Linked DNA regions of Homo sapiens: all the other regions are reported to be linked to region 4. Evidence: microRNA targets listed by miRTarBase, many of them from high-throughput screens and not tested one by one. Region 4 holds a microRNA gene; each other region holds the end of a gene's coding sequence.

Region 1 (4,092 bases), not on the chromosome of region 4:
TTGGAAGGCTACCTCAAGAACATTCACACCTGTCGCATGAATAAGTTTCTAAAGCTACTGCGATTTTGAGGATTGTTACAGAAGTTAGCCTCATACTGACTAATCCTGGTAGCAAAAGGGCATTTGATAAAATTCAGTACATATTCCTCATTTTTAAAAACTTATAAGATGGAATAGGATTCTTTTAACTCATTAAGAAATACCTATCTTATGTCAAATGCCAACATTGTTCTTCATGATGAAGTACTACAGGCATTTTCTTTAAAATAAAGAAACAAGACGAGGATGTCTACTGCTACTACTATTAATGTTAACTGGCTACAAGTTCCAGCTAATAGCTGAGGAATAAAATTACCATTATTTGAGAGGAAAAAATCATCCACCTAGAAAATCCAGGAAAAATCAACTGCAAAATTATTAGAGGGATTGAGGGACTTTAATAAAGTCATCTGCTACAAAATAAATATTACAAATTAATGTTTCCTATATGATCTTTAAAAAGTAAATTGTGTATCTTGAAATACATTATATATAAAATAATCATAAAACAAAAAGGTACTATGAAAAAAGAACAAAATTTTTAAAATGCTGTGAAATTAAAAAATGATAGCCAAAAAAACTTCAATCAAAAATTAAAAAATACATTTGATAAAGTTTCAAAGAAAAAAATCCAAAGAGATTGGCAAAAGGAGAGGAAAGATGAGAAAATTAAAGGATCCATCCAGGAGTCCAATATCTGACTAAAAGGTGAGAAAAAGCAAGCAGAAGGAAGAAAATTATAAAGAACATTTAGCTGATTTGGATGACTAAGCTTTATTCAAATTTCCTTAGTTTTTATCTAATGTGCTTTTTTCTTTTCCAAGATACCACATTACATTTAGTTGTCATGTCTCCTTCAGCTCCTCTTGGCTGTGATAGTTTCTCAAACTTCCCTTGTTCTTGAGGATTTTGACTCCTTTTGAGGAGGACTGGTCAGCTATCTTGTAAAATGTCCATCTGCTGAGATTCATCTCATATTTCACAACTAGAGTGAGGTTATAGGTTTTGGGAATATCAGAGGTAAACTGCAATTTTCATCACATCATATGAAAGGTAACACTCTCAACATGACTTACCTCTCTTTTGACTTTGATCGCCTTCTGAGTAGTGAGGTACCTCTCGCTGAGTTTGTCAGGTTTCTCCACTGTAAATGCTACTCTCCCTGTACCACCTGTACTTTGGATTCTTTGGAAGGAAGTCACTATGTGCTGTCCATTCTTATAGGTGTGTAGTATCTTATTGTTTTCCTTGCTTGTACTTTTAAGTTACATGATGTGTATCTAGTAATACATCAGCAGTACCTGGGGATCTTTTTCTCTTGCTTGTGCCAATTCTTGTTCATGTTTTAATGAACAAAAAATGGTCTTTTTTGCATACCTGATTGTTTGATTGTATGATGAGCACTGTGGTACTTTTAGAGTATATAAAATAACATTTTCTTCCTCCAGAGAAGATTTTCATTTACCTGGTGCTTGAGCTACCTTAATCTAATTTCAGGGTTTGAACTTTTTCTATCTACCCAGACAACTTGAAGCAGGGCTGCTTTATGTACAACTCACATGTACTTTTAAGATCCAACCCTCTGAGGTCACAATTCTAAATGTAGGGTGGTTGCAGACCCCTTGTCTTCCAGCCCTTTGAGGCTGTCAATAGCACTGTTCCACTTCTCAGCTGCCCTTTCCAAGTCATCAAGTGCTCCTGGGCAAAACAGCTCCAAATGTTGGGCTTTGTAGTGAGAATTTCTCTCTTCTCCCAGATCTTAACCTGGCAATTCCTCACTATCTTATTAGTTTTTTAATGTTTGGGGTTAATATTATTTTATTTCTTTTTTTCCCCCATCACAGAAATCTGCCTATTGTTTTATTTCATCCACATATTCTAGCCTTCTGTTTTGGGAGGTTTGTCTGTATCACCTAATACACTGTTAGGAGTGAAAACTGGGTCCTGGGTTCCTTTTGCTTCACCCCTCACACTCCAGATCTTTCCCACTGGCTTTAAAAAGTTACAGTTAATATAGCTTTATAATTTACATTTTTGGAAAGAAATAGTGACAAAAAGCAAGAATCTTGACTGCATTCTCCTTCAAGGTTAAAAAGAAGCCTCTGACTTACCAGCCATGGAGTCACTAATCTAAAAAATTATACTACTTCCTTGGCCAGAACTACTATACCTAACCACAGAATACTCCATAATTCTTATACAAAGATAATTTTATTAATGAAAAGATCACACAAAACAAAGTTTTTGTATTCAAAGTTGTCTGTTTAAAATGTGGAAAAGGTAATATTTACAACATTTCCCATACAGTACATAGTTTTTGTGCCTTAACAGAATGCTAAATAGAGAAAAAAACCAAAAGCAAATGCTAAATTGAGAGAAAATCAAAAGCATCAGAAAATCTTGCCCAAAGAATAATACTTAATAGGAAACAAAATTAAGAAAACTCCTTAATATTTTAAAGTATGTTGTATAAAAACGTTGTGTCTTGTTTATTAAAACTACCTTTTTTCCATTTGATTGGCACTAATATCGCTATCACACTTTTTAATGTTCAGCAAAATCCTAGTGAGCTGCCGAAATGAATTCTACAAAATGTCTGAGAAAGGTACTGTATAATACAAAATGTAATATTCTAAATGTTAAAAAACAAAAGTTAAAACAAAAAATATAAGCAACTGTAAGTGGTTATAATACAATCAATGGGTGGTCATGAAACATTAAAAAAGGGAAGTCAATTGCACTTGGCCTAATATACAAAAGACTAACATTTTGTCTACTAACCCTTTAGGACATTTTATTTTAAATATGCAGAAGGATCAGTGAGCAGCATAATACAATCAATAGTGGACACTCTTTGAGTAAGCACCTTATTTCAGTTACATAATTTAGATCTGTGAAATTCCTAAAACGAGACTATAAAAATCACACATTTTAGATGGTAAGGTATCAATAAGTGGGTTTTTAAAGTTAAATTCCTATTATAAGACTTTTTGGTATATCTTTTTTTACAGTATAAAAGAAGACTATTTTACAATTTTCTTAGAAATTCAGTGTAAAAGCTACCAAAGTGCTAAAATATCACAATAGCATGATAAAAATACTTGAATAGGATTTCAAAAAAGTTCAAATACATATAAGCTTATTTTCAAATATGTATAAAAAGATACAAGGATAAGATTTAAATACTTCAGCAAAGAAATATCTTGATTTTATATCAAAAAAGTAAAATAGCATAGTACATCTTAAAATACTCTTACCAAGAGTAGAATCTTCATAAATAGAAAAGGAAGATTCCTCTAACTCTGTCCTCCCACACTATTAAAAAAATATTATTAACCTGCACATTTTCTGTTTTCAGGTATATTGTTGTCATTAACCTTTGTGTGAAATGAGTCATATTATTCTTGAACTCTATTTTTTCCAGTATAACAGTAGGCAATGCAACTTTAAGTGCAAAAGAAGAATGTAACAGTGATTCTTACAAAACAGTGCATAGGTCACTTCCAGTGTAACACAAATTTGCTTCTGAGTAACGAGAGAAAATGTTCTTCAAGTATCTGAATGACAACCACCTCCCTGCTCTTTTCTCACTCCTGAAACCGGGTGAACAAGCAGAGATGTGGAACCTTTGAGGCTGCTTGGTTCTGAAGAACTGGGGACCTGCAAATTGTTGCTCTGTGCCAGGCCAGTGTCAGTAATATCACTCTTTGGACTAATCCTAGATAAAAGAAAAAAAGTTGACACACACACATCCACAAACACAAATATGATGCCATTTTTCATGAGTTTCACCCCTAACCAGTGTCCACCTTTATCAGAGAATAAATAGCTAACAGTCTTCAGGTGTACTTTAACACTTCAAAATACAAATTTTTTTTTTGAGACAGAGTCTCACTCTGTTGCTAGGCTGGAGTGCAATAATAGCGTGATCTCAGCTCACTGCAACCTCCACCTCTTGGGTTCAAGCGATTCTCCTGCCTCAGCCTCCCGAGTAGCTGGGACTACAGGTGGGTGCCACCACACCCGGCTAATTTTTTGTATTTTCAGTAGAGA
Region 2 (4,092 bases), not on the chromosome of region 4:
TTTAACCGATCCTCAAAACTTACTGAACATAAAAACATTCATACTGGAGAGCAACCCTACAAATGTGAGGAATGCGGCAAAGCTTTTAACCGATCCTCAAATCTTACGGAACATAGGAAAATTCATACCGAAGAGAAACCCTACAAATGTAAAGAATGTGGCAAAGCTTTTAAACACTCCTCAGCCCTTACTACACATAAGAGAATTCACACTGGAGAGAAACCCTACAAATGTGAAGAATGTGGCAAAGCTTTTAACCGATCCTCAAAACTTACTGAACATAAGAAACTTCATACTGGAAAGAAACCCTACAAATGTGAAGAATGTGGCAAAGCTTTTATCCAATCCTCAAAACTTACTGAACATAAGAAAATTCATTCTGGAGAGATACCCTACAAGTGTGAAGAATGTGGCAAAGCTTTTAAACACTCCTCATCCCTTACTACACATAAAAGAATTCATACTGGGGAGAAACCCTACAAATGTGAAGAATGTGGCAAAGCTTTTAGCCGATCCTCAAAACTTACTGAACATAAGATAATTCATACTGGAGAGAAACCCTATAAATGTGAGAGATGTGACAAAGCTTTTAACCAATCTGCAAACCTTACTAAACATAAAAAAATACATACTGGAGAGAAACTACAGAACTGGAATGTGTGATAATGATTTTGACAACACCTCAAATTTTTCTAAATATAAAGGAAATCATACTGGTGAAAAATTCTAGAAATGTAAAGAATGTGTCAAAGACTTTAAATGGTTTTCACACTTCATTGTATGTAAGATAATTCATACTGGAGAAAACTACAAGTGTGAAGAATTTGGCAATACTGTTAATTAAGGCTCAAACCTTATTGCACAGGAAAGCGTTTATACTTAAGAAAAATTGTACAAATATAAAGAGTGTAAAATAGCCATTAATATCTGTTGACATCTTAATATCAGAATGTTGGTACTTAATAAAAGCATTATAAATGCAATTACTGTCTAAAGACTTTAAGAAAATATAAGCCTTTAAAGTGAAGAAGAGTATTCGTTTTGAAGACAAAGATTACAAACATAAAGAGGGTTGTAGTACATTTACTGGTATCATAAAGCTTATCATGTACATTTTGTACTAGAGAAAAACCCTGAAGCAGTTGCTCAAAGTTTTTTCAACATCAGTGAATCTGTATGGGAGAAAAACTCTGCAAATGTAATACATTTAGAAAAACACATTTTTTCAAAATCTATAGCTTTAGAAAACACCAGAGAGTTAGTACTAAAATATATTTCTGCAGGCTGGGCGCAGTGGCTCACACCTGTAATCCCAGCATATTGGGAGGCCGAGGTGGATGGATCACCTGAGGTCAGGTGTTCGAGACCAGCCTGGTCAACATAGCGAAACCCTGTCTCTACTAAAAATACAAAAATTAGCAAGGCATGGTGGTGAGTGCCTTTAATTCCAGCTACTCAGGAGGCTGAGGCAGGAGAATCGCTTGAACTGGAGGGGCAGAGGTTGCAGTGAGTCAAGATCGTGCCATTGCACTCTAGCCTGGGCAACAAGTGTGAAACTCCATCTCTCTCTCTCTCTCTCTCTCTCTCTCTCTCTCTCTCTCTCTCTCTCTCTCTCTCTCTATATATATATATATATATATATATATATATATATTTTTTTTTTTTTTTTTGTAGATGCAGTAAATATAAAACAATATTTATTCTAAAATTAAGTCTATGTAAATATCAGATAGCTCAGAAATATCTAAGGCACTGACACTTCAGACATTACAGTAAATCAGAATGCTGAGTATAAAAAATAATCCAGAACTAAAGTTGTTAGATAAATTGTGTATAACTTTAAAAGGTGTAGAAAATTTTTTGAAAAGTTATAATTACATTGAAAGTATACTTTTTTCCTTAAAAAATACAGATTATTTGCAACATGAATAATGTAATTCAACTCTCAAAATTCAAAACTCTTCTTGTTTTCTTCATTTCTATTGTATTCAACTTGTGACTAATTGTTGCATCAGAGATAGGAGAATTTTTTTTTATTAGTTGGGCATTATGATCTTTTTTATGGAAGGGTAAGGACATTAAAATGTAAGACACATAAAAATCTAAGTGGAGAGGCTCTTTTTGTTAATATAAGTGACACATGAGGTGGGTGTTCAGGGTAATATTCTGCATTATAGTGAGAAAAAAGCATTTTAAATTTTAGTTAAAATTAGTAAATTATTTTACTAATTGTACTTTTATGTAATAAAATGTACGTTCTTAAAATTTTAAGTTATGTGTGAACTTAATATTTTATTAAAATTTTATTTAACATTTATAAAACATTTAATAAAGTTAGTATGCCATTAACTTTAACCTATTTCACTTTACTCACTGGTGTAGGCAAAAGATGGTAACATACTATTTGGTAACATAATGGACAAACATTTCTAGTAATCCCTTTTGCCAGTGACTTTAAACTGCAAGGAGGTTAAAGAATGTTCTCATAGGTTAAATATTTATTTCTCATCTAAGTTTATACTTTTTAATTTTTGTGGATACATTGTATGTGTATATTTATGCCATATATAGCACATTTTGATACAGACATATAATATGTAATAATTACATCAGGAAAAATTAAGTATCCATCATCTCCAGCATTTATCCTTTGTATTATAAACCAATTCTACAGTTTTAGTTTTTTTTAATGTACAATTGTTATTGACTACAGGGCTATTTTTATGGTTATGCTAAAAATTATATAGAAGTATAAATAAAGTCCACACATTCTGAGTCCTAAATAAGCATTAAAAAAATTGTTATATGTATTTTTGAACATGTTGTTTCTCTGCCTGCAAACACATACAGACTTGTTAGTTTTGACTTAGTAAAGTTAAATATATACATACATTACTCTTAAGTTAAACCCTAGGTGTAAGAAAATTATGGAGTAAGTAAGCATGTTTGTGTGAGTATAAATTTGTTCCTATTTTCAGAAGAAAAGAGCAATATTGGAACAAAACATTTTAGTAAGGTAACTAATTTACTAGAAAACTATAAACCTCAAAAATGCGGAAAGCAAATCTATACTCTTTCTACTGAATTACTGTAAAATAGTATGGCTTATGGGTTCAAAATCTTATGCAAATTTTGTTTTTACTTGATTGGTACTCATGCCTAGCCCACATTTTTTTGTTGTTTCTTACAATTTTTTTTCTTTTATAGTTTATGAGGTTTTCATTATGTGAAGTGGTCAAAGATATAAACTATTTTTATAAAATTTAGTAGGGCACACAAAATAATTTTTAGATGTAGTTCCACAATTAGTGTATTGTTTTATTGAATTAAAACATTCTATTTTGTTCTTCTAATTGAAGAACCTTATATAAGCCTATTTAAGTTATTATTCCTTTCACTTTTTATAATTGACAGAAGTAAATTTATTTGTTGATTGAGCCAGTTCAGGTATTGGGGGAACCCGCCCCCAATATTTCAATGTAGGTTCTTTCTATTTTCCATAAGTGTCAGCCGGCTGAGAAATAGAGATAACACAGAGAAAGGAATTTTACAGCTGGGCTGCCAGGGGTGACATCACCTATCAGTAGGACCATGATGCCCGCCTGAGTCTCAGACCAGCAAGTTTTTATTAAGGGTTTCAAAAGGGGAGGGGGTGTAAGAACAGAGAGTAGGTACAAAGATCACATGCTTCAAAGAGCAAAAAGCAGAACCACTGATAAGGGTCTAACAAAGATCACGTTTCTGAGGGAACAGGGCAAAGGGCAAACGCAGAACCACTAATAAGGCTCCAACAAAGATCAAAGGGCAAAAGCAGAACCTCTGATAAGGGTCCAACAAAGATCACAGGGCAAAGGGCAAAAGCAGAACCACTGATAAGGGTGTATGTTCAGTAGTACATGTATTGTCTTGATAAACAACTGAAAACGGTTGGAGAGCAGAGAACCAGTCTGACCACAAATTTACCAGGGTTGAGTTTTCCCAACCCTAGTAAGCCTGAGGGTTCTGCAGGAGACCATGGCTTATCTCAGTCCTTATCTGAACTGTACAAGACAGACATTCCCAGAGCAGCCATTTATAGACCTCCCCCAGGAA
Region 3 (4,092 bases), not on the chromosome of region 4:
GCTTGTGACCACGTGAATTTTCACCCACTTGAATAGATTACTTTATAATTTCATCTATTACCCTGAAGACAGAATTCAATGTCATTCTTACCTTTATATTGTCTTCTCACTCAGGTTCCTCCCATTAAACCTTAACACATAGTTCAGTAAATAGAAGGTGAACGAATTAGTGAATGCATACCCCGTTTTTGCCATCCTACTAGCTTCATAAGAAGCCTAATATCACATGCATAGATTTGTTGAGTTCTGGGATAAATTTTTTCTTATTTGTTTTACCTTCTTATTTTTCAGTCACTGGAGGAGGATCCATGGCCAAGGGTGAATTCTAAGGACCATATACCTGCCCTGGTTCGTAGCAATGCCTTCTCAGAGAATTTTTTAGAGGTTTCAGCTGAGATAGCTCGAGAGAATGTCCAAGGTGTAGTCATACCCTCAAAAGATCCAGAACCACTTGAAGAAAATTGCGCTAAAGCCCTGACTTTAAGGATACATGATTCTTTGAATAATAGCCTTCCAATTGGCCTTGTGCCTACTAATTCAACAAACACTGTCATGGACCAAAAAAATTTGAAGATGTCAACTCCTGGCCAAATGAAAGCCCAAGAAATTGAAAGAACCCCTCCAACAAACTTTAAAAGGACATTAGAAGAGTCCAATTCTGGCCCCCTGATGAAGAAGCATAGACGAAATGGCTTAAGTCGAAGTAGTGGTGCTCAGCCTGCAAGTCTCCCCACAACCTCACAGCGAAAGAACTCTGTTAAACTCACCATGCGACGCAGACTTAGGGGCCAGAAGAAAATTGGAAATCCTTTACTTCATCAACACAGGAAAACTGTTTGTGTTTGCTGAAATGCATCTGGGAAATGAGGTTTTTCCAAACTTAGGATATAAGAGGGCTTTTTAAATTTGGTGCCGATGTTGAACTTTTTTTAAGGGGAGAAAATTAAAAGAAATATACAGTTTGACTTTTTGGAATTCAGCAGTTTTATCCTGGCCTTGTACTTGCTTGTATTGTAAATGTGGATTTTGTAGATGTTAGGGTATAAGTTGCTGTAAAATTTGTGTAAATTTGTATCCACACAAATTCAGTCTCTGAATACACAGTATTCAGAGTCTCTGATACACAGTAATTGTGACAATAGGGCTAAATGTTTAAAGAAATCAAAAGAATCTATTAGATTTTAGAAAAACATTTAAACTTTTTAAAATACTTATTAAAAAATTTGTATAAGCCACTTGTCTTGAAAACTGTGCAACTTTTTAAAGTAAATTATTAAGCAGACTGGAAAAGTGATGTATTTTCATAGTGACCTGTGTTTCACTTAATGTTTCTTAGAGCCAAGTGTCTTTTAAACATTATTTTTTATTTCTGATTTCATAATTCAGAACTAAATTTTTCATAGAAGTGTTGAGCCATGCTACAGTTAGTCTTGTCCCAATTAAAATACTATGCAGTATCTCTTACATCAGTAGCATTTTTCTAAAACCTTAGTCATCAGATATGCTTACTAAATCTTCAGCATAGAAGGAAGTGTGTTTGCCTAAAACAATCTAAAACAATTCCCTTCTTTTTCATCCCAGACCAATGGCATTATTAGGTCTTAAAGTAGTTACTCCCTTCTCGTGTTTGCTTAAAATATGTGAAGTTTTCCTTGCTATTTCAATAACAGATGGTGCTGCTAATTCCCAACATTTCTTAAATTATTTTATATCATACAGTTTTCATTGATTATATGGGTATATATTCATCTAATAAATCAGTGAACTGTTCCTCATGTTGCTGAATTTGTAGTTGTTGGTTTATTTTAATGGTATGTACAAGTTGAGTATCCCTTATCCAAAATGCTTGGGACCAGAAGTGTTTCAGATTTTTTAAAATTTTGGAATATTTGCTTTATACTGAGCTTTTGAGTGTTCCCAATCTGAAATTCAAAATGCTCTAATGAGCATTTCCTTTGAGCATCATGCCTGCTCTGAAAAAGTTTCTGATTCTGGAGCATTTTGGATTTTGGATTTTCAGATTAGGGATGCTTAACCTGGATTAACATTCTGTTGTGCCATGATCATGCTTTACAGTGAGTGTATTTTATTTATTTATTATTTTGTTTGTTTGTTTGAGATGGAGTCTCACTCTGTCATCCAGGCTAGAGTGCAGTGGCGTGATCTCGGCTGACTGCAACCTCTGCCTCCCGGGTTCAAGTGATTCTCCTGCCTCAATCTCTCTCCCCAGAAGCTGGGATTACAGGTGTGTGCCACCACACCCGGCTAATTTTTTTTTTTTTTTTTGAGATGGAGTCTAGCTCTGTCATCCAGGCTGGAGTGCAGTGGTGTGATCTCGGCTCCCTGCAACCTCTGCCTTCTGGGTTCCTGCGATTCTCCTGCCTCAGCCTCCTGAGTAGCTGAGATTACAGGCACGCGCCACTGTGCCCAGCCAATTTTTGTATTTTTAGTAGAGATGGGGTTTCACATGTCAGTCATGCTGGTCTTGATCTCCTGACCTCGTGATCCACCCGCCTCGACCTCCCAAAGTACTGGGATTACAGGCGTGAGCCACCGCATCCGGCCTGAGTTTTATGCTTTCAATGTATTTCTTACATTTCAGTTCAAGTGATTTTCATGTCTCAGCCTCCTGAGTAGCTGGAACTACAGGTGCGTGCCACCATGCCTGGCTAAGTTTTGTATTTTTAGTAGAGATGGGTTTTCATCATGTTGGCCAAGATGGTCTTGATCTCTTGACCTCATGATCCACCAGCCTAGGCCTCCCAAAGTGCTGGGATTACAGGTGTGAGCCACCGTGCCCAGCCAACTATGCCATTATTTAACCATGTCCACACATTCTGGTTATTTTCAATATTTTGCAGAAGATAATTCTTGATCGGTGTGTCTTATGCCACAAGGATTAAAATATGTATTCATTGCTACAAAACAATATCTCGAAATTTAGCAGTTTAAAACAACAAATATTATCTCCAGTTTCTGAGCCTCAGAAATCTGAGAGTGGTTTAGCTGGGTGATAGTCTCGTGGTTTTGGTCAAGCTACCAACCAGGGCTACAATCTTTCGAAGGTGTCATTGGGGCTAGAAGATCTGCTTCCCGCAAGACTCACAGCTGTTGGCAGGAGACCTCAGTTTGTTGCCACATGTTCCCCTCCAGAGGGCCTCTCACAACATGGCAGTTATTTGTCCCCAGAGCAAGCAACACCGGAGGGCAAGGAAGAAGCCATGATGTTTTTTGTAACCTAGCCTCTGAAAGTGTCATACCAATTCTGTATTTTGTTGGTCACACAGACCAAGTCAACTACAACGTGGGAGACTCCTACACAAGGCATGAATTCTAGGAGGTGGGCATTTTTAAGTGTCATCTGGAAGGAGGCTGTCACAACCTGGAAGTTAAAAGCATTGATATTCTGAAATACAGCGTGTATAACATTGTTTTAGTAGGGTGTGCAATAGTTATGTTTTGGTAATAGCATTAATGAACAATGTTATTTTCATCTTCCAGACATCTGGAAGATTGCTCTAGTGGAGTAAAACATCTTAATGTATTTTGTCCCTAAATAAACTATCTCACTAACAAAGTTGAGAATAATTTTTTTTTTTTTTAACAGGGTCTCACTGTCCCCAGGCTGATGTGGAGTGCAGTGGCAAAATCATAGGTCACTGTAACCTTTAACTCCTGGGTTCAAGTGATCCTCCCATCTCAGCTTCCTGAGTAGCTGGGACTACAGGTGCATATCACCACACCTGGTGGATTTTAAAAATTTCCTTAGAGACAAGGTCTCACTGTGTTGCTCAGGCTGGTCTTAAATTCCTGGCCTCAAGTGATCCTCCTGCCTCGGCCTCCCAAAGTGCTAGGCAAATTTTAATCTTAGAGACAAAATATTTAGGCAGTATTAGTGGTTGCATTAGGGATTACAATGTACATACACTTATAGACTACTTAGAATCAATGTTCTATGACTAAAAGTGGAATGTAGGAACGTTACTAGCCAGGTGTGGTGGCATGTGCCTGTAGTCCCAGCTACTCTGGAGTCTGAGGTAGGAGGATCACTTGGGCCCAGGGGGTTGAGGCTTCAGTGAGCCGTGATCACAC
Region 4 (4,092 bases):
TCTTAAGAATGAAAAAAAGGGTGTTTTAAGCAGTTAGTTGTGGCATTATTCATAATATTTTTAAAAGGTGGTTATACATAAGAATAACAGAATGGTTCTGTGAATGATGCCATAGCCACTCAACAAGGCACAACGCAGCAAGTGAGGTTATGAAGATTCATGGAACAAGGGAAAATGTTGATGACAGAAAATTAAATAGAAGAGGCAGGATACAAAAAAAAAAAAGTGTATGTGGTGAATAATGGCAATTAGGTTTTTTTAAAGAAGGGATGCTCATTAAAGAATAGACACTCTTTTTTTAAAAAAAGTATGCCTGTAAGAATGTAAAATGGGTGACATGTCAGAATGTTGAGTGGTGCATGCATTTCCCACTGCTCTAGGTCAAGTGCCATCCACACCATTTATATTAGGAACACAACGGGACACAGCAGGATTCGTGGCCTGTCTATCCCAGAGGTCCTGAGGCCAAGCTTCCCAAGGAGGGAGTTGGGAGTCACAAGAGGAGGCCAAGGAGAGTTGTAGCTCCTGGTGTCACCAGGAAAGGATTTGTGTGTGGGGAGCATGCAAATGACAATGTCAAGAGACAGAATTAATTCTCATTGTTAAAAGTTTAACGAACACATAAAGATAGGCCCTGACCAGACAGGAGCACTAGGATCCCAACTCGGACCTTGTGGGTCTGGTACAGAAAGAACCGGGTAGGGAGCACGTGAAGGATGTTTTATCTCTGGCTTTTGTGCCATTAGGAACCCTATCCCGAATCTCAGCATCCCAGAACTAAAGAACCTTTGAATTACAGATACAAAACTCTTAAGGGTCAAAACCCTAAGAGCCCTGATCCCCCCTCATGGCCTCCACATTTCCAAAAGGACACACAGAATTCATCCAACCCAAACCCACCCAGCCTCCAGGGCACCAGTGGGTCTCCCCAGAGCTGCTCTCATTGGCTCAGTTCGACCCACTGTGACCCGTCAGGACAGCCCCTAGATGTTGGGAGCAGGCTCTCCTAGCAGCCAACGTCGCTTGTTCCTTCCAATTTCCTCTTGGTGCATGCAATGGGCCCTCCCTTCCCCGCCTTCTGCACACTTTAAGTCTTCCTGAGCCTCTGCTGACTTTTTTTAACAGCCGTACATGAGTTCTTTTGAAAGACCCTCCCGGTCTTCTTCTGCCCTGAACCCCTCCCGCCCCATCCTCATCCAACAGTGACACAGCTTGTCAGGGAGAAGCTTCAGCAGGTGTCCCCAGGGATAATAAGTGCACCCCCAGACCTCAGTCCAGCCAAGGCATAGCCTGGAGCCCCAGATTCTGAAAGAGAAGAAGAGCAGACCCCTGAGGCCCCAGCACCACATCAGGCCCACGAGGCCCAGCTCATGTGGCCCTGACACGTGGTACTGGAGGCTCGGAAGGTGGCTCCTGACACATGAATTCCATGTCCTCCGCCTTCCAAATGCTGTTGCCATCCACTCGGCCGGAGCTAGAAGCGTGGGAACCACCCCCTTCTTCTTGCCTCCCTCCCTCCTTCATATCCTGTCTATAACCCCATAGCTTTGATTCCTGAGCACCCCACTTTGCTGCCATCAGCTCAGACCTCAAGCATCACACTAGCTAACAGCCCCATCCATGCCTGCGCCCGCACTCCCCATCCCACCCAGCGTCTACAGAGTCACTCTGAGCATGACGCCTCCCACTCCAGATGGCCTGGCCCCACCCCACTCCCCTGCCTCCCACGTGCTCCCTGCCACAAGTCCTGAGTCCATCCAAGCTGTGCTCCTACTGCTCCGGGCGCTTGTTAAGAATCCAGTGTTTTTATATGTCCCAAATAGGAATTGAGAGGTCAACAAGGGAGACTTTGGTCCTTGCTTTTACAGACAAACACAGGCACACAACACAAAACTACACACATTTCCTCCACTACAGAGAAAGGAGACTCAACAGAACCGGGGAGGCCCTGGGGGAGGACTGTCAGCACGAGCAACTCTCCAGATTTACCCCGGCAGTCCCCCGGAGGGCGAGTCAGAGAAGAGACAACCTCGACACAGCGAAACGCAATCCCGCCAAGTTACAAAACACGTCGTGAAACAGCCGAGAAGACAGAGAGGCCTTGAACCAGGCTCTGGGGATGGCATGTCAAGGAAGCCAGGGTCCCCGGACCACTTCTGCAACCCCAGGGGTGCTGAGGTGCACCTGCTGCCCAGGGAAACCTGAGTTGAGAAGGGTGGGCGCCCTGCCCCATGGAAGACCAGGCCAGAGGGTGGCCTGGGCACACTGCAGAGAGTTGCAAGAACAAGGTTTCTGGTGGCTTGCCCAGGGCTCCTGGGTCCCGGGGCTTCTGGGTCCCCCTTCTCAGGTGCGCCTGGCCACCTTCTGGCCTTTCCCTGCACCAACCCCTGGATGTGAGTAGGTGCCACACCCAGGGTGGCACACAGCAGGCGGGGCCCATGCTCCACCCAGGGCCTATTGCTCCCTGACCCTCTGCTGCCCCCTGGTGGGCAAAACCTCCTGTGCAGGTGACCCATGCCGCGGGAGTGGCCAAGCTACCCAACAGGCTTCACACCACTCGTTCATGCAACCTTCTGCGGGGCTCAGGGTCCAAGCCCTTCCTGCCTATCCAGGCCATAGATGGGGTACCATCAACAGAGACACATAAGATCAACTCTAGTAGGCAGCTGGTGCCACTCCAGGTTTACAGATGGGGAAACTGAGGAAGAGACAGATGCAGTGAAATGGCCCACACAGCCAAGATAGGGCAACAGCACCCCAAGACCAGGGTCTTCCTGAGCCAGCTCCTCCCTGCCAGGGCAAGTGCATGTGACAAGCACATGACATGCCTACAGCCACCCTCCCTGGGGACCACTTCATTCCACTGTCTAGAACACAGGACTGGAAAGAAGGTTCCTTCCTCTCTTCCCTTTTTCCCTCCTTCCTTTCTTCCTACCTTCCTACCACCCTTTCTTCCAGTCATTCGTTCATCCATTTAGATCTGAGTCCTTTGTTTATGGACTTCAGTAACATAGCTTGAAATTAATCATAGCCTTTGGCCTAAAGGCCTCCATTCACAAGTCCTATTTATTGACCGTTACATTATTTTATTCTTTATTCATTTCTTTTTCATTTCTTCCCAAATTGCATCTTTCTTTCTTCCTCTCACTCTTCCTTATGTTTCTCTGGTTCTTTCTCCTTCTTTTTTTTTTTTTCTTTTTTGATCTAAGATAGTGTCTTGCTCTGTAGCCCAGGCTGGAGTGCAGTGGTGCAATCTTGGCTCACTACAACCTCCACCTCCCGGGTTCAAGCAATTCTCCTCTCTCAGCCTCCCGAGTAGCTAGGATTACAGACAGGTGCCACCACGCCCATAATTTTTGTATTTTTTTAGTAGAGATGGAATTTCACCATGTTGGCCAGGCTGATCTCAAACTGGCTGGTCTCAAACTCCTGACCTCATGATCCGCCCACCTCGGCCTCCCAAAGTGCTGGGATTACAGGCGTGAGCCACCATTCCCAGCCATTCTTGGTTCTTATAAAGTCAGGTGGACAGAATCCCATGAATCAGGGCTCCCGGTCACCACCTTCATGCTGGTCCCTAAAGCACTACTGCTCCTACGTCAAGCACCATTCACTCTCTCATCCACTCACTCATTTGTCAGTCTTCCTTATTTTGGGTATTTGTTTTCCTTATTAATTTTTTTAATTAAAACTCCATGGGCAAACCAAACATCTTTGGCCCATGTATTTATTTGCAATCTTTCTTCCCCGCATTTAGTCACCTTTCACGTTTAAGTATTTATTCTTTTATTTATGAACCTCAATTGCATCTATTTTATTACAGTGGCAGAAGATACAGCCTTGTTTTGGAGCCAGGTATGTCTCTCTATTTTTCATTTATTCTTTGAAAGGTGTAATGTATTTATCTGTTTAAGGAGTATGTATGTAAACTAATTATAATCCCTGTTCAGACAACCTCCCTTAACTATCCATTTATCACTTTGGTTGTTTGTTTATTACCTTTCCTTTTTCCTTTTTCACATCTTTTTATATTTTCTCCATTTTCCCTCCCCCTGGGAACCTGGGCCTGGATTATCTCATCCATCTTCAGGA
Region 5 (4,092 bases), not on the chromosome of region 4:
TTAACACGAGACTTTGAGAGCAGAGCAAATGAATAATGTGAAGAGCTAGAACGTTGCCTTTTGGGTCAGAATGTTAATATATCATCCTGATAGAATGTCTATGAATTTCATAGGTTATACAGGGCAGGGCTGGGCTGTGGCCACTCATTTTGGAGCTTTTACTTAATACTACGGAACATCTCGTCCCAACAGTTGTCTTTTCTCCATCTAGAAGAAAAGCAGCTTAATCATTTTGGTGGGGAAGAGTGATGCTGTGACTTTCAGTTGTGAATTGAACATTTTTCTAGTATTTTACAGTTACTTTTAATACCGCTTTTAGGGAAATTGATATGTTCTGTAATGAGAATGTAGTCAACATGATGGAGACTCAAACCTCCTGCTTTACCTTACTCTTTGTTTATTTTCCTAGGTTACCAAAGTGACCCAGGTAGATGGAAACAGCCCCGTCAGGTTTTCCACAGAGACCACTTTCCTAGTGGATAAGTATGAAATTCTGTAATACCAAGAAGAGGGAGCTGAAAAGGAAAATTTTCAGATTAATAAAGAAGACGCCAATGATGGCTGAAGAGTTTTTCCCAGATTTACAAGCCACTGGAGACCCCTTTTTTCTGATACAATGCACGATTCTCTGCGCGCAAGGACCCTCGACTCACCCCCATGTTTCAGTGTCACAGAGACATTCTTTGATAAGGAAATGGCACAAACATAAAGGGAAAGGCTGCTAATTTTCTTTGGCAGATTGTATTGGCCAGCAGGAAAGCAAGCTCTCCAGAGAATGCCCCCAGTTAAATACCTCCTCTACCTTTACCTAAGTTGCTCCTTTATTTTTATTTTATTATTATTATTATTATTATTATTATTTTTTGAGATGGAGTCTCACTTTGTAACCCAGGCTGGAATGCAATGGCATGATCTCAGCTCACTGCAACCTCCGCCTCCTGGGTTCAAGCAAGTCTCCTGCCTCAGCCTCCGAGTAGCTGGGACTACAGGTGCACGCCACCACGCCTGGCTAATTTTTTGTATTTTAGTAGAGACGGGGTTTCACCGTGTTGCCCAGGCTGGTCGCGAACTCCTGAGCTCAGGCAATCCGCCCACCTCAGCCTCCCAAAGTGTTGGGATTACAGGCATGAGCCACCATGCCCAGCTGCTCCTTTATTTTAATCCCTAAATATAATCCCTAAATATAGTTATATTTCATACTTAGTTTGTTTTTAAAAAGTTTTCTCTGTAGAAAATTTTAATCATTCATACCCTTTACCTTTAGGTTTTTCTTTCTATACATTCAGTCAGGCACTGGGATCATCTGTTTACAGGCATTATATTTATTTGGCACTCCTGGAACAAGTATATCTAACCCATTCTTGATTTTTGGACTATTCAGGTGAACTATTTGAGGGGTATGGGGTCTAGAAGTTAAAAGATACGCATGTCTTCTGTTCTTTTCCCGTATCAATTCATTCCTTCATCTCTTTGCCAAGTTGTTTTCCTTTCAGGGCCTGTCCTTCCAGTTTAGAACAGTACCATGAATCCCACTTGTGTCAATATTAAAGATAGCTGAGAAGCACCTTTCAAATGGCACAGTCCCTCTTCAAGATGTCTAAAAGAATGGTTATGTCTGTCCAGTTAGGGATTTCACATCCACATGTAATCATGTCTGCTGCTGTTGCTACCCAAATTTTCATTTCTCCACATTTTGGGTACTTAAGCTAAAACGTAATGGCCACAGTCTGTAATCCATTCACATTCCTCAGTTTCACCACCTCCCTCTTCCAGACTGCACTCTCTGTCATCAGTCCCCTCCTTTCTAACAGAAATGGGGTTATGATTTTGAAGGCTGTGGGTTCAGGGAGTCTTTGCCAATCCTGTTGGCCCTAAACTATCAAGGAGGCTCCATTTCACCATTTGATTTTTTGCATTTCAGGAGGCAACTGATTGTTTCGATATGTACATATTACTCACGTATACCCCATTTCCTTCCAGTCAGCCCAACATTTTCCACCAGTCTGTCCCCATCTCTGAAATCCTTCCTTCTCTTTCCCCCTAAGTCTTTTGAGTGTCATCATGTACTGGTGGTTTCTCGGTTCCATCTCATCCATTTCCTTTTCAATGGAGACTACAGCGTCAGCCAGCTCAGCCTTGGCTTTTAACTCAATATTCCAGTCCATAGGGGTGGTTAAAAGTTGCTGCAAGGCTGCAGGCACTGGCAGTGGGAAGAGGCAGACGACTAGATGACTTCTGCACTTTTAGCTGGTTGAAAAGTACCACTCCCACTCTGAACATCTGGCCGTCCCTGCAAAGAGTGTACTGTGCTTGAAGCAGAGCACTCACACATAAATGGCTGTGTGTGGAATTGCTTGCCAAAGAAGTTTCTAGCCTTTCCCTTTCCCCTAACTGCATCAGGGAAGAATTCTTATCTCTAGCTTGGTTTCCACATGAGGTTTTTCTGAGAAGGGCTTGGGACAAGAAGTCTGTCATGTTAGTTAAGCAGGCAAGAAATCCTACTAATCCAGTTTTGTTTGAAAGTTGTTTGTCCGTATGATTTTTTAAAAGTCAAGTTTAATTTCAAAAAACCTTTTTTTTCTGAGATTACTTTTGGGGTAATATTTAAAATGAGAGACATTTTGTAACCCTGTAAAATACATAGGGAATATAACATTCCAGTGTATACAAAGAAGGCAAATTCTTTAATCAAATAAAGCGCATTATAAAATGAGATGTTTATTGGATTATTGACTCACTTTGGTGTCTGCTTGTTGATTCAGGATGCTGTAATGGGACCTAACATTAAAAATTAATGACATGTTTTTTTTAAGAGAAAGTAATCTGTGAGAGTATTCATTGCCTTTTTCCATCTTATATGTATTGTGCTTCCTTGCGTATTTTTCTACATTTGATACATGCACTCCTGACAGTGTAGCTTTTGAATTTGATGCTACTTCTGGCCTTTTTGGGGATTGGAGTCTTAATTTTGTCAGACGGCAGTTGGAGAGTCAAAAAAGTCAGGCTTCATCTTTAATCTTGGAGTCTTGGAGTCTTCTCTTCCCCATTAGACCGTGATGAGAAGTGATCCAGGGATGAGGGATAATGGGAACAATTTTTGGGAACTGTTGATAATTCCCTCAGATAAACCTGCTTACTTTTTTTTTTTGAGATGGAGTCTCGCTTAGCTGCCCAGGTTGGAGTGTGGTGGTGCGATCTCAGCTCGCTGCAACCACGGTCGCCCAGCTTCAAGCGATTCTCCTGCCTCAGCCTCCAGAGTAGCTGGGATTACAGTCACCCGCCATCATGCCGGGCTAATTTTTTTTGTATTTTCGTAGAGACGGTTTCACCATGTTGGTCAGGCTGGTCTTGAACTCCTGGTCTCAGATGATTCGCCCACCTCTGCCTCCCAAAGTGCTGGATTACAGGCGTGAGCCACCGCGCCCAGCCTTTTTTTTTTTTTTTTTTGAGACAGTCACCAGGCTGCAGTGCAGTGACATGATTTCGGCTCACCACAACCTCCACCTCCAGGGTTCAAGTGATTCTCCTGCCTCAGCCTCCTGAGTAGCTGGGATTACAGGCATTCCACACCACCACCCCCGGCTAATTTTTGTATTTTTAGTAGAGACGGTTTCACCATGTTGGTCAGACTGGTCTCAAACTCCTGACCTCGTGATCCGCCCGCCTCAGCCTCCCAAAGTGCTGGGATTATAGGCCTGAGCCACCGCGCTCCGCCAGAGCTGCTTACTTTCTTATGCTTTTTTAAAATTTAACTTGGAAAAACTATTGGGTGTCAAAAAATTGGAAGGCAAATTATTCTCACTTATTAAGTATCTGGGATGAGAAATTTCTAATGTTGAAAGCCAAGATTCTGATTTTTTTTTTCTTGGTGAAAAAAAGTATCTGGTCTAATGTTGCTCAAGTGTGGCTTAGCTGTCTGAGACTGTAGCCTTAATCGAATGAAATGATTAAGGTCTGTCATTCCTTTACTCACCATAGCTTCAAATTTGTCAACCCATGCATCTCTGATGGGAAACTTTGCCCTCCAATTAATTTTTAAATTGTGAACAGTTTTAAAGTTGTTCACACTGGCTAGGGTCTGAGATTTCCAGG
Region 6 (4,092 bases), not on the chromosome of region 4:
TGACCTCAAAAAACCTTATAAGCACTTAGATTTAATTGCATTTTCCATAGGTTCAACTACTGCTGAAAGTCTGGATTTCAGAATAAAGCAGAATGTAAGTTTCAGTTGAGGCCATGGATTTGATTGTTCCATGGCTGGAAGTTCCCTTTAGATTTCACATTTTATATGGCTGATCAATTTTCATACATTGAGAAACCAAGTCAATCAAGCAGGAATCATTTAAAAACCAGATAAAGCCATGTTTTTCTTCTGTGACAATTTATCAGTATCTTTACCAATGAGCCTTAATTTTTATATAGGTCCAATATTGAGCTTTTACTTAAAATTTAGATAGAACTTTTTTTTGGATACAGCACAAACTCCAGTTGACAGTAAAATGAAGCTTCTAGGTATTTTGTATTGTACATATTTCCTCCTACTGGGTGTTCAAAAGAAATTTAAATTCAAGTACCTTTTGTGATAAAATGTTTTAGATTTGTGCACCCATTGGCAAAACAGGAAAGTTTCCAGATAGGTATTGTATCATTGAGAATGCAGCACAGATAGTGTGGGCTTCACACTATAGACACAGAATATAGCTTTTTCTTAAAGCCAAATTTGGGTGATAGGACACTTTAAATATCCTTAATTTTGGCAACCACTAGCAAAAAAACTTGTCAGAATAATTTAACCAAGCCCCTCTCCACTTCTTTTATTTAAAAGCACTGATTCAATTGCTAGGAATATTTTTGCAGATTTTTCTTTACAGTATTCCATAGGCAGGTCCACTGGAAAACTGCAGAAAAATGTGAGCTCTCCTGGTAAATAGTATACATTTTATAAGCTATATTTTAAAGGCCTAAGAACATGGCAAGTATTTACTTTTATCTTTTTTTTAAAAACACTCATGACAGAAAACAGTTTAATAATATCTCATTCTAAAATAAAACACTGGTTGCAGGGTCTTCAGGATGCCTATTTTGCCAAGAAACTTCAGTATACAGGTTAGAAATATGCTTTTGTTTTTGAACAATAATATACTGGTTTGCTTTAAAGAAGGGACTAAATATGACTTTAAAGAGACTTCAAAATATTGAGTATTTTAAAAATTTAAAAGTAGGTCAGTTTATAACGAGTAAATACCTAACACACCAAGAATGTGCAGTGAACCTCAGGCATTTAAGACACCTCCCCCACCGCCCGCCCCCCGCCCCCCCCAATCAAAGTGTGGTCCCAAAACAAGCCAACAGCTGTATATCTCAAAAGTTAACCCAAGACAACTCTGATATTTAGGTTATTTGTTGAGACTCATTGGTACTGACTGGCAAGTATTCTGCTTTAAAGTATCATGTATTAAAATGTTTAGACAGCATGTGTTTTAAAGTGATAAATGCAAAATGTTAAGTTTGAAATGGTTAACAGTAAATTATTATGTTAGTTTCCAGGCACTTGAACTGTGCTACAAGTAGGGGAAAACCTACTTTAAAGTATGGTAAATGTGTGTTTTAAACTTCCTATCAAGTGACATACTTCATTTGATTTTTTGTTTAAGAAGCCATGGTACTTTTTTCTTGAGTTACTTTGGATATGTTTTTTCAATGCCATCTGAAGATTTTGTAATTGAGTAGCAGTAAATATACAGATTTACAATGTTTTAACTACAGTTCATGAATAGCTGGTTGTGTAAAACTAATAAAAAACTAGACTTTCACATGTACTCTGTACTGTAGTGGTGATACATCCATTTAATAAGTGTGCGTACTCATCAAGAACTTTCATACAGAACAACTCCATTTCCTCACTTCCAAATACTCTATGCATGACTACTTACCTTCTTTATAGCAAATGGTCATAAAATTAACCTTAATTATTCAGTTTTGTGAAGTCACTCCAAGAAAATGGTCCATTACCACAAAAGAGTATTCCAAATTGTATAGGTTATAGGGCTGAATCAATTTAAAAATCCCTTTTCAGAATTATTCCCCATAAGGAAATGCTATATACACCTATAAGATATCAAATGCAAGTGACTTAAAACACCAGTGATTTAGATTTATTTTTATTGACAAGGTTTATAAGAACAAATATTTAAAATCGAAGGCCAATTATTAGGTCTCATTTAGTTGCTTATTTTGTTCACTTGTATTTACCTTTCCCTAGTGTCTGAGTAACTATCAAGAAACAAACCTGTGAAAATACCTGTTAACATTCAACATATATTTTTATATATTTCTGTTCTATGATGCAAAGATATTTTTCAACACTTAATTGGTGCAACAAATGTGTCATTGTGTCATAAACAGCATGTTTTAAAATTCAGATTTAATAAACTGATTTAAGACAGTAAATTTGAAAGACAAAATTAAGTCTCATTCAGGAGTGGTCCATTATGTTGATCATCTAGAATCAACACTGATTAACCAAACTCTGAAAGCCAAGAGCCCCAACTCCAGAGAAACATTAAATTTCTTTAATGTAAAAGTATATTATTTTTGAGACACACTTTGTCAGAGACATCCACGATTGCCTGCACATTATATTCTGGCATTATAATCTGGTACTTTAGTCATAATCGTGAAGCTGGCTAGGTTTCCAGTAAATATCAGCATTTTATATGGGCAAAAGCAGTTAATAAAAATCAGTTCATTTACTGTAAGCCAAATGTGCTTGTACTTAATCCCACCCTTTCCCAAAGTTTTTGAAGCTTTGATAGGTTGATTTTTGGTCTGTCCTTATATAATATAAAACGTACCTACAGACACTTTTACAGAGTTAATACTAAAATTACAAATTGATGACACTTTCGAGGCAAAGCAGGGTAACTGTTCCTTCAGTGTTGCCATCACTGAATTGACTTTCACTGTTCCATCATACTGTTTGGCTGAACACTGACATTCCATAGTCTACAACTATAAAGATACCTACCTATGTGAGTTTAAAAAGTGATCTGCACAAAAGAAATAAAAAAACTTTATATACAACCAATTGTTTTTTAAAAATACAAAAATAACATCTGTCACTTTTGTCATGCTGACAATTTGACATATATACACATGCAGGAGAAAAGTTCCAATTCAGTGATCTGGACAACTGTAGCTTGTATATTTTTAATATGATGGACACACTGCCGCTGAATTTTCACACTGACAGAGATGTGTATTCAAAATATTTCATATACTAAATACTACAATCTCTGTATGTATAAATCCTGGTGATAATAGTTTTTGTTCTACTTGATTAAAAGTATGCCTTAAGCAAGCTAATATTAAGTGCACTAAAAACCACAACAGCTCAAGAATCTATGACCTTATATAAAGAAATCCAAAATGTACAAAATACAACTATAAAAGCAAGGAACAATTAATGCCATGCAAGATTTTAAACTAAAAATGGCATAGAAATGCAATTTAAAACAGCAAACTCAAATTCACATAACACTCAAGATAAAAAGGTCAGCAGTAAGTTCTACTAACGTTGCTTAACAAGGATTTAGAAAAGGAAATACATTCTCTTTGCTGGTATAATGGTATAAATCAGATCTTCAAATCTATGGGAACGAGTCATCTTCTCTGTCCTCTATCTCAAGAAATTAGCTGTAATGAAAGAGAAACATTATTTTGCCATAAATCATAAACCTTTATCCCATTTTTTCCACATCTATTTTACTATTTTGTCCTTCAAAAATCAGTTGAGATCAATACAGAATTACAGCTACCTGCTGATCTTCCCCTCACCTTTGCCTCGTAGACAGGAACTTCCTCAAGTATTTGTGAGAGCAACGTTGAGATGCCCAGCTACCCAGGTACACCATGAGGCCACATCATAATCTGAGTTCAGGTCTTATCACTAACTGTTCAAACTTTAATTTTAAGCTTTAAAGTGGGAATGAGAAGAAATAAATTTCCCTATTATGAAGAAATGTGAGGATCAAATGTGATATTTAGTGACATGAATATTTTGAAAAATATGGAGTATTTTATGTAATTACTTTTGTCTTATATTTCTAAAGTCAAACTTGAAAGACTGAAATATTTACCTCTTTTACAGTTGTTTTTATGAAATCTTTTCTTTCAGTTAAATCATAAGTAGGATAATTTTCATAGACCTATGTAT

What was found. The annotated mature microRNA hsa-miR-770-5p reads UCCAGUACCACGUGUCAGGGCCA and lies in region 4 at 1,374-1,396, opposite strand. An mRNA with a match to its seed (bases 2 to 7 or 8) in the 3' UTR can be bound and repressed. Matches are read on the target gene's strand: a 7mer-m8 pairs with bases 2 to 8, a 7mer-A1 pairs with bases 2 to 7 and ends in A, and an 8mer does both.
Region 1: the mRNA of FZD6 is a reported target of hsa-miR-770-5p. Seed matches in the 3' UTR shown: 7mer-A1 at 3,459-3,465.
Region 2: the mRNA of ZNF675 is a reported target of hsa-miR-770-5p. Seed matches in the 3' UTR shown: 7mer-A1 at 796-802.
Region 3: miRTarBase lists PPM1D as a target of hsa-miR-770-5p. Seed matches in the 3' UTR shown: 7mer-m8 at 2,529-2,535.
Region 5: the mRNA of ARCN1 is a reported target of hsa-miR-770-5p. Seed matches in the 3' UTR shown: 7mer-m8 at 2,064-2,070.
Region 6: miRTarBase lists DEK as a target of hsa-miR-770-5p. Seed matches in the 3' UTR shown: 7mer-A1 at 2,571-2,577.

The regions. Positions count from the first base shown.
Region 1 is chr8:103,331,006-103,335,097 of GRCh38, reverse strand. It overlaps FZD6 (frizzled class receptor 6), which reads right to left. Exons shown (of 7, transcript NM_003506.4): 7 at 2,232-3,757. The coding sequence ends at 3,589. Among named protein-coding and RNA genes, the nearest start is that of SNORD173, 24 kb to the right of the region's middle.
Region 2 is chr19:23,649,797-23,653,888 of GRCh38, reverse strand. It overlaps ZNF675 (zinc finger protein 675), which reads left to right. Exons shown (of 4, transcript NM_138330.3): 4 at 1-1,088. The coding sequence ends at 663. Among named protein-coding and RNA genes, the nearest start is that of ZNF675, 35 kb to the left of the region's middle.
Region 3 is chr17:60,662,704-60,666,795 of GRCh38, forward strand. It overlaps PPM1D (protein phosphatase, Mg2+/Mn2+ dependent 1D), which reads left to right. Exons shown (of 6, transcript NM_003620.4): 6 at 292-3,577. The coding sequence ends at 849. Among named protein-coding and RNA genes, the nearest start is that of BCAS3, 13 kb to the right of the region's middle.
Region 4 is chr14:100,849,713-100,853,804 of GRCh38, reverse strand. MIR770 (microRNA 770) reads right to left here and starts at 1,415; the gene lies at 1,318-1,415. The region is part of intron 9 of MEG3 (maternally expressed 3); the gene reads right to left.
Region 5 is chr11:118,600,216-118,604,307 of GRCh38, forward strand. ARCN1 (archain 1 coat protein complex I subunit delta) reads left to right here. Exons shown (of 10, transcript NM_001655.5): 10 at 410-2,818. The coding sequence ends at 499. It overlaps LOC124902765 (a long non-coding RNA gene), which reads right to left. Exons shown (of 2, transcript XR_007062908.1): 2 at 2,684-4,092. Among named protein-coding and RNA genes, the nearest start is that of PHLDB1, 5.4 kb to the right of the region's middle.
Region 6 is chr6:18,222,159-18,226,250 of GRCh38, forward strand. It overlaps DEK (DEK proto-oncogene), which reads right to left. Exons shown (of 11, transcript NM_003472.4): 10 at 4,016-4,084; 11 at 1,702-3,572. The coding sequence ends at 3,561. KDM1B (lysine demethylase 1B) reads left to right here. Exons shown (of 22, transcript NM_001364614.2): 22 at 1-1,696. Among named protein-coding and RNA genes, the nearest start is that of DEK, 40 kb to the right of the region's middle.